2 separate regions of the Homo sapiens genome follow, and region 2 is linked to region 1. Evidence: fine-mapped expression QTL. A gene starts in region 1. The other region holds a variant in brackets. All regions are shown on one strand. Distances are between the middles of the regions.

Region 1 (2,993 bases):
CCCGGTTCTCAGCTGTGTTCTCAGTCAGGGTTGTTCCCCAAAGTCCTAAGGGGCATGGGAGAGATGCCTGGGATGCTCAGTGGCAGTGTTCCTCCCAGTCATCCCCACCCATCTGTCTCTGGACTTTAGCCCCTTTCCACCCCTGCCCTTCCTTGCCCATCACCTTCATCCTTGGCTGAATCTGGCTACTGTACCCACACCCATGCTTGCTCTTCCCATCAGCTCCCTGAGGTCGACAGGGGTGAAGGCCCTGGCTTGTAGAGAATGAAGGCATGGAAAGGAGGCACCTGTTCCAGGTGGGGTAGTCTAGGGCATCATCACATCCATGTCCTCCCTCAAACCAGCTCCCACATACCTCTCTGGATCCCCAGGTGATGACCATGCCAGGCTCCCACAACCGGTAGACCGCTCAGCTGGCCTCTGTGTTCTGGGTCATGCAGCACTACCATGGGCAATTCATACACCCCAAAGTGACACCGAAAGGTCACCTCTTCTTCAGATCACATTCCACCCCCACCCCCTGCCCAAAAGCTTTTGGTGACTCCTCCTGATTCTAATATCCCAGGAGAACTGTCCCCCTATCTGGTACCTCTGATGCCTTGACAGATATGGAGGCAGCAGCTGGACACCTGGGTCCTGTATGCCGTCTCCTGGGGTTCATCTTCAGGCTTCTTGGGTTGGGGCTGGAGAGGCCCCGTGCTGGAGATGGTGCAGACTCTCAGCGTCCCGTGTGGGGAAGGGGGACCACTGTAGGCGGGGTTGTCCCAGGCTCCACTCCCCAGCTTTTGCAGCTCCTGCCCCTCAGGACTTCCCACAGCATTCATGGGGAATGAGGTGGGGGGGCCCGGTACCCCAGGTGCCCACTCTCAGCTAGAGGAAGAGGGAGCAGAGGCACAGCCCAGCCTAGCCAGCAGAGAGCAAATGGAAAGGCGTCTGAGAGCAGCTGTTTCCACACAGCCTGGGCTCCTGCCTTTTGTAGGGGGATGTCTGTGCCTGCTGGGGAGGGAGCGGATGAGAGGACAGGGTGGGGAAGGACCATCAATCCTGTCAGGAGCTCTCTCTCCCTCTTGCTGCAAGCCCCAGGGGACCAGCCGAAAGGGGAGGTGAGGGAACTGGAAGGTGGGGGTTTGAAGAGGGGAGAGGGGAGAATAGGAGGAGGATGTGGAGCTGGGAGTGGAAGGAGAAACGGGAGGAAAAGGCGATGCTGGGGATGAAGGGGGCTGCTCGCAGATGTGCCTGGTGGAGAGATGGCCCAGAGGTCGGACAGAAGAGACGATCAAAGAGCAATGGGAGGAGCTGAGACAGGAGGGGAGCCGGGGGCCTGTGCTGCGGGTCTGAGCTCATTTCCACTAAAAGCTCCTAAAAGGGCCGACATGGATTGGGGTGGGGACCAAGGCTGGGAGGAAAGCTGAAGAGCGCTGTCCCCCTCCCAGGCTCTGCCCACCTCCCAGGTTCAGTCAATGGGTCTGAGGCTCCTGTCCTGTCTCACCTTCAGCTGTCCCCTGGTGGAGCAGAGATGGGCAGCTCCCTTCCCTCACTTCACCCTCTCAGCCGTGGGGAAAGGACAGTGGCAGGAGGAACCCCAGTCTCACATACTTCAGGGCACTGAGGGGGCAGGGGAGAGGACCACAGAGTCCTAGGTTGTCTATATTCCTTGTTCTGAAGCTTGCCTTTCCATGGCTTACAGGTGAGATACACCAAGAGAGGGGGTTCCTTAAGGGTGTGGGGCTCAGTATGGGAAAAAGGCTAAGACCTGGTTGGGAGGCTGGATCGGAGAACAAAGGACAAGGACAGTATGATGTGGGACTAAAGGGGAGTGGATATCTGGACCCAGCTGAGCTGGGAACCTTTTCCCATGGCTCTGCTTAGTCCTGGGCCTAGAATCGTAAACTTGAGCACAAAGTGGAACTATCCATGATATCAGGATTAATCTGCTTTCTTTATAACTGCAGGTCTCTGAATTAAAACTGTGTCATGGGCCCCCAAGCACATCCCTGCCTATGCCCTGCTCCAGCTTCTGATCACCTGCTCCAGCTCCCCTATAGGCATGCATGATGCCCCAGAATGGGGCTGATCCCACAGGTTGTGGTGGTCACCCTGCAGTTTCTCCTCCTTGAGGCTAGAGCAGAGACTTTCCTCTCCTAACTCCTGGCTCCCCACCCAGGGCTACTCACTGGCCTGAAGCCCACCTTCACATTCAGCAAAACATCAGCCTTGTCAAAATAATCAGTCTTGAGTGTCCCTATAAAGAGATCTTGGCTGGGTGTGGTTGCCCACACCTGTAATTCCAGCACTTTGGGAGGCCAGGGCAGGAGGATCACTTGAGCTCAGGAGTTCAAGACCAGCCCGGGCAACATGGTGAAACACCGCCTCTACAAAACAACAACAAAACAACAAAAATTAGCCAGGCATGGGGTGCGTGCATGTAGTCCCAGCTGCTACTCAGGTGGCTGGGGTGGGAGAACCACTTGAGCTGGGGAGGCTGAGGCGTTGAGGCTGCAGTCAGCTGAAATCACACCACTGCACTCCAGCCTGAGCAACAGAGCAAGACCCTGTCTCAAGAAAAAAGAAAGAAAGAAAGATAACAAGTGTTGGCAAGGCTGTGGAGAAAAGGGGCCCCTTGTATGCTTGGCTGTATTGTAAATTAGTACGGACATCTTGGAAAACAGTATGGAGGTTCCTCAAAAAACTAAAAATAGAATTACCATATGTTCCAAGAATCTCAAAGGAATTGAAATCAGTGTGTTGAATAGATGTCTCCTCTCCCATGTTCATTGCAGGATTATTAATAATAGCCAAGATATGGAAACAATCTAAGTATCCATCAACTGACGAAAGGATTTAAAAGATGTGGTATATATGCACAATATAATATATTCAGCCTTGAAAAAAAAAACACAGAAAATTCTGTCATTTACGACAACATAGATAAACCTAGAGAACATTATGTTAAGTGAAATAAGCCAGGCATAATGAGACAGATGCCCTATGCT
Region 2 (2,500 bases), 26 kb before region 1:
ATGGATGCATAATATCTCTGATTATTATACAAGGCAGTAAATATTACACGTCTTCTGAGAAAAATGGCTTGACCTGGTAAAATGCCTATTGACAGGCAGAAATTCAGTATTCGCTATTTGTAACTTTTTAAATTGAAGTGCATAGGTACAGAAAAGAGCAAGAAGCAACCTTAAAAATTTTCTAAATTAGAATCTAAATTTGGTTTAGTACCTATTCAACACTCTCTCCCCATACAAACACTCTTTCTCCCTCATTAATTCTTACATCTGTGAATTTTGTACTCCATCCCATGAGATGAGGGGTACTTTCCCACCATTTTATGAAACCCAAACCGAGTATTTCTAATACCTCCGATGTTCATAGTTAGTAGCCCATATTATCAGCCTATCAACCTGAATTATTCTAAAAACACATTTTATATTCATTAAACAAACATTATTCAAATTCTACAATGTATAAAATACCTTGCTAGGTGTCACGGTTTCTTTTATCTTTATCTTTTCTTTTCCTTTTTTTGAGACAGGGTCTTGCTGTGTTGCCCAGGCTGGAGTGGGGTGGCACTATCATAGCTCACTGCAGCCTCAAACCTCCTGGGGTCAAGTGATCCTCCCATCTCAGCCTCCTGAGTAGCTGGGACCACAAGTGCATGCCACCCCTTTTTAAATTTTGTGTAGAGACAAGGTCTCACTATGTTGCCCAGGCTGGTCCTGAACTCCTGAACTCAAGCTGACCTCCGCTGTTAGCCTCCCAAAGTGTTGGAATCATAGGCGTGAGCCACCATGACCAGCAGTGTCATGGTTTCTATCCTTAAAAAGTTCTATTGAGGAAGACGTGTCCCAGAATGAACTTGATGTAGCAGAATGAGCATGAGCACTGCAGCCAGACAGATCTAGGTTCAAATCCCAGCTCTGCCACTTACAGTATAGACTTGGGCTCTGAGTCTCAGCTTTCTCATCTGTAAAACTGGGAATATAATACCTTTTAGGCAACTCAATAAGTAGTTGAGTAGCTTCCCAATAAGTGTTTGTTGGTTGAACCAACAGTGGAAAAATGAAAAATAACTATAATACTATAATAAAGGGTAGAAATGAAATAAGTGAATCATTTTCTCTTCTTGT[CT/C]TTTTTTTTTTTTTTGAGATGGAGTCTCGCACTGTCACCCAGGCTGGAGTGCAGTGGCGTGATCTCAGCTCACTGCAACCTCTGCCTCCCGGGTTCAAGCTATTCTCCTGCCTCAGGCTCCTGAGTAGCTGGGATTACGGGCGCCCGGCACCATACCTGGCTAATTTTTTGTATTTTCAGTAGAGACAGGGGTTTCACCATGTTGACCAGGCTGGTCTCGAACTCCTGACCTCAAATTATCCACTTGCCTTGGCCTCCCAAAGTGCTGGGATTACAGGCTTGCACCACCACACCCGGCCAAGTGAATCAATTTCAAACTGAGTAAAGCATCATTAATCCATGTTTGACCCATCACAGCAATGTCATCAAAATAGTCAAGGACAACTTATATTTAGTAAATGTTGGAAAGAGGCTGGAATATTCCTTAGTCCAAAGAGAACAATACATTCATTCAAGTCTTGGGTAAGAGAAATAAAGCCAGTCCTTGATTGACCTAGCAAGCAAGCACAGTTTACCAGGAACCCCTCCCTACACAGCGTGAAGGTAGAAATGGTGCTGGCAGAACTCAGTCTCTCTAATAAGTCATCCGTCGAGAGCATCAGATGGGCATCAGGCATGGAGGCTGCAGGAATCTGAATCTAAAAGCAGGGCAGAGGAAGCCCAGGGTTGTACATGGGGTGATGATTTGGCTCATGTGTCTTTCTCCCCTTTTCTTAACCCACCGATGATAAGCAAACTTTAGCATGCATCAGAATCACCTGGAAGGCTTTTTAAAACACAAATTGCTGGCCAAGTACAGGGCTCACTCGTATAATCCCAGCACTTTGAGAGGCTGATGCAGGTGGATCACTTGAGTCCAGGAGTTCGATATCAGCCTGGGCAACGTGGCAAGATCCTGTTTCTACAAAAAAAATACATAAATTAGCCGGGCATGGTGGTGTGCACCTGGGGTCCCAGCTACTCGGTGAGAGATGAGAGGTCAAGGCTGCAGTGAGCCAAGATCATCTCAAAAAACAAAAACAAAAACAAACCAACCCCTAAAAAACATGGATTGCTATAGGTTTAGGTGGGGCTCAACAATTTGCATTTCTAATAAGTTCCAAAGTGATACTCGTGGTCATGGGACCACACTTTGAGAACTGCTGCCTTGACCTGTTGCAATCAGACAAGCAATCAGTCCTACTTGTCTTCAATAGAAATGTCAAGAAGGCAGTGGGTTTCCCAGTATCTATTTTGGTGATTCCAAAATAGAGAGTAGAAAGAGAAAAAAGCTTCCAGAGGGCTCTCAGAACTTCCCAGGGATCTCAAGATGACTTACAAACTACACAGAACACTTAGGACACCTGCTTCCCACTCCAGGGGAAAATCACTGAGTTCACT

The links. PIP is the estimated chance that this variant, and not a neighbour inherited with it, causes the effect.
Region 2: its variant is the best candidate, but not a certain one, in a credible set for the expression of PKD2L1 in prefrontal cortex (CommonMind, PIP 0.89).

The regions. Positions count from the first base shown.
Region 1 is chr10:100,329,280-100,332,272 of GRCh38, forward strand. PKD2L1 (polycystin 2 like 1, transient receptor potential cation channel) reads right to left here and starts at 949. Exons shown (of 16, transcript NM_016112.3): 1 at 590-949; 2 at 1-45. The coding sequence starts at 824.
Region 2 is chr10:100,303,995-100,306,494 of GRCh38, forward strand. The region is part of intron 2 of PKD2L1 (polycystin 2 like 1, transient receptor potential cation channel); the gene reads right to left. Among named protein-coding and RNA genes, the nearest start is that of BLOC1S2, 19 kb to the left of the region's middle. The variant CT/C (reference allele first, on the strand shown) is at 1,120.